Regions from separate parts of the Homo sapiens genome. Here region 1 is linked to region 2. The links come from fine-mapping of genetic effects on gene expression. A gene starts in region 2. The other region holds a variant in brackets. All regions are shown on one strand. Distances are between the middles of the regions.

Region 1 (5,364 bases), 100 kb before region 2:
TTGAGCTTGCTGCTCTGGGCGCAGGCGTAGGGACACTGGTCGCAAGCATAGGGCCGCTCGCCTGTGTGTGAGCGCATGTGCACTTTGAGGTTGCTGAAGGAGCTGAGGGTCTTCTTGCACACAGGACAGGTGGGGCTCCGCCGGGTGAGGCCGCTGCCACTTGCACGGGGGCTCTTGGCCTCAGCTGCTGGCCCCACCACTGCCGACACGGCTGCAGCCACCTCGGCCAGGCCCAGGAGCGGGGCCTCCGGGGCCTCTGATTCTGTCTGGTAGATGGACAGTCCGTGGTCCCACTGGGCGTGACGCAGCAGCTTCCAGGCCACTGTGAACTGTTTGCCACAGCGCAGGCAGCTCAAGGCCTTCAGCTCCTCTCGTTCTGGTAAGAAAAAGAGGCAGAGTGTTAGTGCGGACAGCTGCCAGCTGGACACCTTCTGTGGGATAGGCACTCCTGCAGGGGCAAAGGACTTGGCAGTAACAAGACACACACACCCTGGAAGGACCAGGAAGCTGACGCTCAGAGGAGGGGTGGACACGAAAAATCTGTGGAGTGGGTGCTAAGTACCTGAAAACATTTTTTTTTAGACAGTCTCACTGTCGCCCAGGCTGGGGTGCAGTGGCACGATCTCAGCTCACTGCAACCTCCACCTCCTGGATTCAAGCTATTCTCATGCCTCAGCCTCTAGAGTAGCTGGGATTACAGGCGCCCGCCACCATGCCTGGCTAATTAGTAGAGATGGGGGTTTCACCGTGTTGGCCAGGCTGGTCTCGAACTCTTGGCCTCAAGTGATCCACCCACCTCGGCCTCCCAAAGTGCTGGGATTATAGGCATGAGCCACTGTGCTGGGCCATGTGTTTGAAAATCTTTTAAAAAGTTATGTTAACTCAGTAAGCGCTTCCTACATGCTAGGTGCTGAGCCATGGCTCATAGCCCGGCTTTCCCTCAGGACAGGAAAATAAGATCTCCATTTTCCAGACAGGAGAACTGAGGCACAGAGAGGCATTTCCCCAGGGTTGCACAGCTTGGAAGGGGTGAAGCTGGGATTTCAATCCAGACTACTGGGGGAGGGGGAGAGGGCAGAACAGAGGCTTGCTTGCTTTTTTTTTTTTGCTTTAAATTTTTAATTTAGTATTTTTTAAAGAGATGGGGTCCTGCTATGTTGCCCAGGCTATTTTTTTTTTTTTTTGAGACGGAGCCTTGCTCTGTCGCCCAGGCTGCAGTGCAGTGGCGCGATCTCGGCTCACTGCAAGCTCTGCCTCCGGGGTTCACGCCATTCTCCTGCCTCAGCCACCACGCCACAGGGTTTCACCGTGTTAGCCAGGATGGTCGCGATCTCCTGACCTCATGATCTGCCCGCCTCAGCCTCCCAAAGTGCTGGGATTACAGGTTTGAGCCACCGCACCCGGCCGCCCAGGCTATTCTTTAACTTAATGGCCTCAAGTAATCCTTCCGCCTCAGCCCCTCAAAGTGCTGGGATTATAGGCGTGAGCCACCATACCTGGCTGGGAGCAGAGGCTTTTGAATAAGATTTTTGGTTTAGGCCGGGCACGGTGGCTCACACCTGTCATCCCAGCACTTTGGGAGGCTGAGGCGGGTTGATCTCTTGAGGTCAGGGATTTGAGACCAGCCTGGCCAACATGATGAAACCCTGTCTCTAGTAAAAATAAAAAATAGCCGGGTGTGGTGGTGCGCGCCTGTAATCCCGGCCACTTGGGAGGTTAAGGCAGGAGAATCGCTTGAACCCAGGAGGCGGAGGTTGCAGTGAGCCGAGATCCCACCACTGCACTCCAGCCTGGGTGACAAAAGCGAGACTCTGTTTCAAAAAAAAAAATTTTTTTTGGTTTAATAAAAATAATTTTTAAAGTAATTGAGATATCTGGGCATGGTGGCTCATGCCTGTAATCCCAGCACTTCAGGAGGCCAAGGCAGGTGGACCACCTGAGGTCAGGAGTTTGAGACACCAGCCTGGTCAACATGGTGAAACCCTGTCTCTACCAAAAATACAAAAATTAGCTGGCCATGGTGGTGCACGCCTGTAGTCCCAGCTACTTGGAGGGCTGAGGCAGGAGAATCACTTGAACCTGGGAGGCGGAGGTTGCAGTGAGCTGAGATTGCACCACAGCACTCCAGCCTGGGTGACAGAGTAAGACTCCACCTCAAAATAATGGGGTAGCTACAGAGAAAGCTTAGCGGCCACCTAGTAAAGAGGTGGTAGTGACCTGGGTCCCCCACCCTCTGCATGGATCTCAAATTGAGCCCCCAAACCTGAATTTGGATTTCTATCTGGACCTTCGGGGTACTCTCAGTGGACACTTCCTAGGTGAACTAGCCTTTCCATTTTTCAAATTCTAGAGTCTTGGATGGGACAACCTTTGTGATACAACCAGTCCTGGGTCAAGAGCACAGGCCTGCATTCAAATTCAGACTTCTCTGCTCCCTAATTGTGTGACCTTGGGCAAGACATAGTCCTCTGTGTGCCTCAGTTGCTAGAATTCAGGGACCCTAGAGATCCCCTCCCTTTCAAGGGTGGTTGTGACCTCGCTTGGGGAATGGTTGAGAGCTTTGGTCCACATAAGCGCTCAAACAGCAGAGCCTGTGAAACCAAGGTGCCCATGATTCTCCAAGCCCTGTAGTGTTTTGTTCCAGCGATTCCATCACAGCCCCTCGCTCGCTCCTCCAGGCCACTCTCCATGCTCCAGCTCTAAAGCTGATTCAATCAGTCACAAGCCCCTCCTCTTTCCCACCACCAGACCCTCCCTGGCCCAACCCTAAATAATTCCACTTCTCAAAAGTCTCAGAAGGGCAAGGGCCAGGGGGCTGGAAACTAGGTTTGGATTAAGCCCTGCAGCCAACACTGACCAAAAGCTCACCGAGGGTC[A/T]AGCCCCATGTGAAGGCTTTTAATTCCCTCCCAAGAGAAGGAACCCGGGTGTCCAGCACCCGGGAGCTCGCTCAAACCAGGGGATTCCCAGCACGCGGGGCTGGGAGATTCCATCACCGAGGGAAGCCAGAAGCCCCTTCCTTGGCTCTGAACACTCAGCTGTACTAGCACCTCAATCAGAATTGACAGAGAGAGACAGGAGGGGGTGGCAACCTCCCCATTCCAGCTGGCCTCCACTCCCCCTCCCCCCGGCCGCTGCCCTCCCTAGAGGTCCCCTCCTACTGCCACCCTGGTCCAGCCACCTGGCCAGTTATTTCTGGCCAAGGGGAAGGAGAAGTGAAACCAGGTTGGGGTGTGTGTTGGGGGGGGCAAAATCCCGGGCTAGTCTTCTGGGGCTGGCCACACCCTGTAGGCGGCCCTCCTTCCCTGCCCAGTCCCCCCCCGCCCCCCCTCCACCGCCACCACTGGTCCCTGCCCTAGGACGGGCAGGCCCTGGCCACGCCTAGGCTGCACCCGATGGGGAGCGAGAAAGGGGAAGTAGTGCTCAGTGCCCTGCCGTCCAGCCCAGCCCCTTTCCAGCAGGAAGCCCAGCCCTCGAACTTGAGAGGGGGACTGCACCCGGCTTTACTCACCTGAGCCCTGGCCGCGGCTGGGGCCTCTGAAGAGCTGACAGCCCAGCTTCTTGTGGTCCATGAAGGCAGTGATGGCCTCCAACGGGAAGGTCTGCAGGCAGCGGCCGCAGGTCAACAGATCTGGGTGTTTGTCGGTCCAGGGCTGGCGGTCTGCAGGGAGGAAGCGGGTGGTGAGCGTGGGGTGGGGCCAGGATGGGGGCTGAGGGTGCTGAAGGAGAGGGGAAACCGAAGGTCAGAAGGGGGCCTGAGGGGCAGGACGGGGCGAAGGAGATAAGGCAGGGCGAGGGGCCCATGCCCAAAGGGAAGGGTCCCACCCGAGGGTCAAAGGTAAGGGAGGCTGGGCCCAGGGCCCGGGGTGCTCACCGGGATAGTTCGGGGTCAACGGCGTCCACAGGGTCCACGGGTTCCGCGGGCCGAGGGCGAGGAGGGCGGCCCCGGCGGGCATGGGGCCAGGGGAGTGGTGGGGTTCGCCGCCGAACCGCCCCGCCGAGGACACCTCCTTCGGGGAGAAGGGCCCCAGCCTTGGGGCCTGTTGGGGCTGCGCGTCTGGCTCGGGCTTGAGTTCGATGACGAGGTCCTGCATTTCCATCTCGTCGTCTGGGTTGGCGGCGGGCGCGGGCTCTACTCGGCGGGGCGCGCTGCCGGCCTTGCGGCGGGACATGAGTCGCGGGCCGGGCGAGCGAGCGGGCGGGCAGGCAGGCAGGCGGGCGGGCGGAGGACGCACGAGCGGAGGACGCGCGGACCGTGCGCGCTCAGGTGAGTGACTGCGGCGACCCGCCGCGAACTCTTACACGTGCTGGCCGGGCCCGTGGCTCCGCCTACCAGGGCGGGGCTCATGGGAGGGGACCGAGCCGCCCTGCTGGGGCCCTGACGGCGGCCTAACTCAATCTAGGCAGTGTCCCGTGCGTTTGGCTTAGTGACCAAATTTAATCACACCGAGTTCCCACAAGGCATTGAAACAGCTATCCCTGATCCCGTTTTAGGGCGGGTGAAACTGAGACACGGCATGCCCACACGCACCCCCAAGCGAGAAAAATAGTCGGTCACGTTTCTTATTAGGTGCCTGATAGTAATCTGGGCTATTTCATTAAATGCATTACAATAAAAATTCATTTTGCAAGCATTCACTGAGTGCCTCCTGTGCGCCAGGCTCTGTTTGAAGCCCTGAGAATACAGGAGGGAATAAACAGAAGATAATCTTTGTTTGCACGGAGTTCAGACGGTGGGGGAAGACACTATAAACATAATTACGTAAAATATAGATGGCCCTTCATGATGACCAGTGCCATGGAGCAAAAGAAAGCTGGAAAGGCGGAGAGGGTTACTGGGGTTGAGGGATTCAATTTTCTCCCCTATGATGGGAAAGGGCATGGTGGAGCTGAGGCTGGAGGGAAGGAAGCCCAGCCAGTGGGCCTGGGCATTGAGGAATTACAAGGAAAGGGAGAGGCAATACGGGTTGGGGATTGAGTTCAGTGAAAATATGGGGGCAGATCCAAGCAATCTTTTGATCGCTTTAAGGTCTTTTGGTTTTCCTGAGACCGGAGCCTTAGGAGGGTTTTGAGCAGAGGAGGACTGTAATCATACACATCGACTCTGTTCCTAGACCAGAAGTCGCCATTAAAACCAAATAGCCAAGCAGCTCACCTGCCTCCACTCCGCCTCCTTGAACTTCCCTCCCCTAAGCAGTTCTGTCTGCTCACTGTTTGAAGTGGCATCGACACCCTGCCCCACCCTCAATCCCTGATGAGTATTCTTTTCTTCCTGGCACCGACTGCACGACAGTATAGAACGGCTTGTGGACTGTCCTCTCCCCCACCCAATGCAAGCCCCCTGAGGTCAGGGCAAGAACCTGTCCT
Region 2 (5,364 bases):
CCCGGGAGGCAGAGCTTGCAGTGAGCCCAGATCGCGCCACTGCACTCCAGCCTGGGGGACAGACCGAGACTCTGTCTCAAAAAAAAAAAAAAAAATTAGCCGGGTGTGGTGTCGGGCACCTGTGGTTCCAGCTACTCGGGAGGCTGAGGCAGGAGAATGGCATGAACCCGGGAGGCGGAGCTTGCAGTGAGCCGAGATCGCGCCACTGCACTCCAGCCTGGGCGACAGAGCGAGACTCCGTCTCAAAAAAAAAAAAAAAATCAAATACATCCTTATTGAGTATGATGAAGCCTACCAAGAAAAAAGTGCGAGAGGGAGACCAGGAGAATGTATAAAGGAGATCCAAATTTGACTGGGGGCTCAGGGAAGGCATCCCTGAGGAAGGGATTGTTACGCTAAGATCTGAAGGATTAATAGTTGTTAGCATGGTGAAGATGTGACAGGTGGAATGGGCTGGGAGAAGGGAGCAGGCTCATTTCACAGGAGAGCGGAAAGCACTGGACCAGGGCAGAGGAGGGGCCACGTGAGAAAGGTATTTAGACTGACTGGGCAGAGCCTGGGGGAGGGCTGCAGGTGAGGGAGACAAGGCAGGTGTTGGGACTCCAGGGTTTCTCGTTTGAAAGCCAGGAAGGATATGGAGTGTTGGGACATTATTACCCACCCCCAGGCTGATGCATACTCCCTGGGCCATGCTGTATCTTCCTCATAGCAGTTACACAATGTACCAGACACTTTACTCATTTACTTGTCTGTCTCCTCCAATGATGACAAAGCTCCAAGAGTCCAAAAATTTTTGATGGTTCACTGAGTAATCCCCATGTTTTTTTAGAGACAGGGTCTCACTCTATCACCCAGGCTGGAGTGCAGTGGCATGATCATAGCTCACTGCAGCCTTGAACTCCTGGGCCCAGGCAATCCTCCCACCTCAGCCTCCCGAGTTCTTGGTAGTATAGGCATGTGTCATCACGCCCAGCTAATTTTAAAAATTTCTTGGCCAGGCACAGTGGCTCACACCTGTAATCCCAGCACTTTGGAAGCCCGAGGCGGGCAGATCACGAGGTCAGATCAAAACCATCCTGGCTAACATGGTGAAACCCCATCTCTACTAAAAATACAAAAAAAAAAAACAAAATTAGCCGGGTGTGGTGGCAGGCACCTGTAGTCCCAACTACTCAGGAGGCTGCGGCGGGAGAATTGCGTGAACCCAGGAGGCGGAGCTTGCAGTGAGCCAAGATTGCGCCACTGCACTCCAGCCTGGGCGACAGAGCAAGACTCTGTCTCAAAAATAAATAAATAAATAAAAATAAAAATTTCTTTTAGAGGTGAGGTCTTGCTATGTTGCCCAGGCTAGTCTTGAACGGTGGGCCTCAAGTGATCCTCCCACCTCTGCTTCCTGAGTACCTGGGATTACAGGTGCAAGTCGCCACATCTGGCTAAATGCATTTTTGATTTATGATGTTTTAAACTTATGACAGGTTTGTATCTGTATATCGAGATGGTAACAAGCAACATCCTCCCTGGGGCTTCTAACCCTGGAAGGAAACCAGAGCCAATAAAAATGTCTTACATGGCCAGGTGCGGTGGCTCACGCCTGTAATCCCAGCACTTTGGGAGGCCGAGGCGGGTGGATCACAAGGTCAGGAGTTCGACACCAGCCTGGCCAAAATGGTGAAACCCCGTATCTACTAAAAAAAAAAAAAAATTGGCCGGGTGCAGTGGCTCACGCCTGTAATCCTAGCACTTTGGGAGGCCAAGATGGGCAGATCACGAGGTCAGAAGATGGAGACCATCCTGGCTAACAGTGAAAACCCGTCTCTACTAAAAAAAATAATAATAATACAAAAAATTAGCCAGGTGTGGTGGCGCCAGCAGCGCTTGTGGTCCCAGCTACTTGGGAGGCTGAGAAGTGGGATGATCGCTTGAGCCCAGGAGGTCGAGGCAGCAGTGAGCCATGACTGCATCACTGCACTCCAGCCAGCCTGGGCGACCGAGCAGGATGCGCGTGCGCGCACACACACACACACACACACACACACAGTCCCGGGCCAGTCACGGTAGTTCACGCCTGTAATCCTAGCACTTTGGGAGGCCCAGGCGGGAGAATCACTTGAGCCTAGGGGTTCAAGACCAGCCTAGGCAACATGGCAAAACCCCATTATCTCTTTTTTTTTTTTCCTGAGACAAGTCTCGCTCTGTCGCCTAGGCTGGAGTGCAATGGCACAATCTTGGCTCACTGCAACCTCCGCCTCCCAGGTTCAAGCCATTCTCCTGTCTCAGCCTCCCGAGTAGCTGGGATTACAGGTACCCGCCATCATGCTCGGCTAATTTTTGTAGACACGGGGTTTCACCATGGCCAGGCTGGTCTTGAACTCCTGACCTCAGGTGATCCGACGGCCTCGGCCTCCCAAAGTGCTGGGAGCTACAGCGCCCAGCCGGCATATTTCATTTTATTATTTGACTCCCCTAGTGAAATGTAAGCTTCACAAGGAAGGGATTCTGTCTTAGAACGGTGCCTGGAATACAACAGACGCTCAATAAGTGGGTGTCGAATAAATAAATGTCCCACGCTGAGGCTTAGGTACGTTATGATACTCATTTTACAAAAGAGAAAACTAGGACACACAAAGATTAAGTCATTGGGTCGCACACCTAGTAAGTGGGGGAGGCGAGTCCTCAGCACACGCCCAATAACAGCATTATTATGATTACTAGCCGCTTACTCAGGCCTTGAGCTAAGTGCTTTACCCTGAATCATCGCGCTCAATTTAGCAATAACCCCGAGCCGGCACCGTCGCGAACGCCACTTTCCAAAGGAGGAAGCCAGGGCCAGACGTTGCCCTGCAAGGCCGGGGCTGGGCCGGGTTCGAACCCGGACGCCTGACGCGCCCTCCGCTCTCCCAGAGGCGTTACCTTGGTGGCCCCCGCTTCCTCCCCACGGAGCCCGGCGCTCACCCCCGGGCCGGGGTCGGGGTCGTGAGCCCACAGCTCAGCCACCATCTCCGTGTGAAGAAACTCAAACAACACAGTATCCGCCATGCCCCCTCCTCGCACGCCTAAAGATGCGCCCAGCGCTTCCAGCTCTCATTGGCCAGGCTTGGTAAGCCACGCCTCTTGCGTCATGGCGCGAGCCCTCCTACTCCGGCTTCCATTGGTGTTTTAGACTAGCCCCGCCTCCCCGCCCCGGACTCAGGTGGTGTGCGCGTGAGCCTGGGACACTAGGGGGCGGGCCTACGCCTTCTCTGGCCACATGTGGCAACATCTTCTGCTCTTACTGCCGTCCCTTCCCTATTTCCGGGTTCTCGAGCATTCCTATTGGCCAAATTACTGGTTACACGTGACATACTCGGCTTTTAAAATCCCTATTGGTCCACTCCAGACTTTCCTCGTCGCACAACCTGGAAGAGCCGGCCCAGCTGTTTCTCTATTGGCGGTTCCTCCATTCATGTGACTCTTCTGCACGCTCACTCAAAGCTGATGCTGAGAACTTGCTTCCTGATTGGTAGCCGGGCGAATCCACGTGACTTGGCCGCTAATGCCCGCCCAACCCGCTCCCCTATTGGTTGAAATCACAGCCCTTCAGCTGCCACGGTGAGAACGCAGCACTCGGGTTAGGAAGCGGATCTCGCAAGCTCCGAGCGTCAGCTGCCGGGTACGGTCTTTGGCGTTAGCGCTTCTCCCATCCCATGAGTGCCCCCAGCAGAGTCCAGTCGGACTGTCATCCTTTCTGCGACTCTGGCGCTGGTCCCGAGCAGCTCACGGGCCCGTGTGCTTCCGGGTCTGAGATTGGCATGGTGGACCAGGTGGAGGGTGTGGCCTCTACTAGGAGGCAAATTCGTAAAGACCTCGGCTTGGGACTCCGGGAACTCGGGCCCCAGATCCTTGTTCGAGCTGGTCTTCAGTTTCCCCATCTGTACGCTGAAGAGCCTGGGGTCCAGTAACCCCCATCATCACCCAGTTTACAGAAGAGGAAACTGAGGCCCAGACGGGGAGCAGCTGACACCAAGTCGTTAAGAGAATCAGCGAAGGGGCTGGGAATCCAGGACCTGCGCCTTTTACCCACCGCGGCGCCGGTCTCACGTGCAGTCCCTTCGCTCTTCTCCCCTAGTTCGGTGCCATGGCGTCCCAGGGTCGTCGGCGGAGGCCCCTGCGGAGGCCGGAGACGGTGGTGCCGGGGGAGGCGACCGAGACGGATTCCGAGCGCTCTGCGTCCTCGTCGGAGGAGGAGGAGCTGTACCTGGGTCCTTCGGGCCCGACGCGCGGCCGCCCCACGGGGCTGCGGGTGGCTGGGGAAGCCGCGGAGACCGACTCGGAGCCGGAGCCGGAGCCGGAACCGACGGCCGCGCCGAGGGACCTGCCTCCACTCGTGGTGCAGCGGGAATCGGCGGAGGAGGCCTGGGGCACGGAGGAGGCCCCGGCGCCCGCCCCCGCGCGCTCGCTCCTGCAACTTCGGCTGGCGGAGAGCCAGGCGCGGCTGGACCACGACGTGGCGGCCGCCGTGAGCGGTGTCTACCGCCGTGCAGGCCGCGACGTGGCCGCCCTGGCTAGTAGGCTGGCGGCAGCCCAGGCGGCGGGGCTGGCGGCGGCCCACAGCGTGCGCCTGGCGCGCGGGGACCTTTGTGCGCTGGCCGAGCGTCTGGACATCGTGGCTGGCTGCCGCCTGCTGCCGGACATCCGCGGCGTGCCAGGGACCGAGCCTGAGAAAGACCCGGGGCCGCGGGCCTAGCCATGATTCTACTTCCCAACCTGACTGCAATTTGGGGGTAGGCCTTGCTGCCTCTGGGACCTGACTCTGTCTCCTGTGTCTCTTATCACCCCCCACCCCCGCTCCCATCTTGGTGTCACCCATGGGGGCTAATCCGGTCCCCTTGGATAATGCTTTATATTGGATATAGTTCAACCCCTACTGCGGAGACCAGGGCCCCACTATCCTTAGATCTGGTTCCTCTCCCGATCCTGACCCTGCCGCCTGGTTCTGAGCCTTCCCCTGGGGCTTGGCTCCAGCCTTTGTTACATAGTTGCTCCTTAATCTGTTTCCACCCTGGGGGCTCACCAATTTTTTTTTTTTTTTTTTTTTTTTGGAGACAGGGTGTTTATCTGTCACCCAGGCTAGAGTGCAGTGGCGGGATTACTGCTCACTGCAACCTCGACCTCCTGGGCTCAAGTGATCCTCCCAGCTCAGCCTTCAAGAGTAGCTGGGACTGCAGACCTGCACCACCACGTCCAGCTGCCCGGTTAATTTTTTTCTGTCGGTTTGAAGAGGGGAGAAGGTCTCACTATGTTGCCCAGGCTTGTCTCAAACTCCCGGGCTCAAGCAATCCTCCCACTGTGGCGTCCCAAAGTGCTGGGGTTACAGGTGTGAGCCAC

The links.
Region 1: its variant is fine-mapped to the expression of TRAPPC6A in whole blood (TOPMed, PIP above 0.99).

Annotation. Positions count from the first base shown.
Region 1 is chr19:45,072,205-45,077,568 of GRCh38, forward strand. ZNF296 (zinc finger protein 296) reads right to left here and starts at 4,274. Exons shown (of 3, transcript NM_145288.3): 1 at 3,872-4,274; 2 at 3,509-3,658; 3 at 1-376. The coding sequence starts at 4,169. It also overlaps a transcript of GEMIN7 not described here. RefSeq lists silencers at 3,091-3,400, 3,731-3,970, 4,061-4,470. The variant A/T (reference allele first, on the strand shown) is at 2,877.
Region 2 is chr19:45,175,183-45,180,546 of GRCh38, forward strand. TRAPPC6A (trafficking protein particle complex subunit 6A) reads right to left here and starts at 3,055. Exons shown (of 6, transcript NM_001270891.2): 1 at 2,953-3,055. The coding sequence starts at 3,036. It overlaps BLOC1S3 (biogenesis of lysosomal organelles complex 1 subunit 3), which reads left to right and starts at 3,602. Exons shown (of 2, transcript NM_212550.5): 1 at 3,602-3,649; 2 at 4,106-5,364. The coding sequence starts at 4,115. The coding sequence ends at 4,723. RefSeq lists enhancers at 2,433-3,376, 3,389-3,458, 3,529-3,848, 4,389-4,889, 5,315-5,364 and silencers at 2,809-3,028, 4,199-4,508.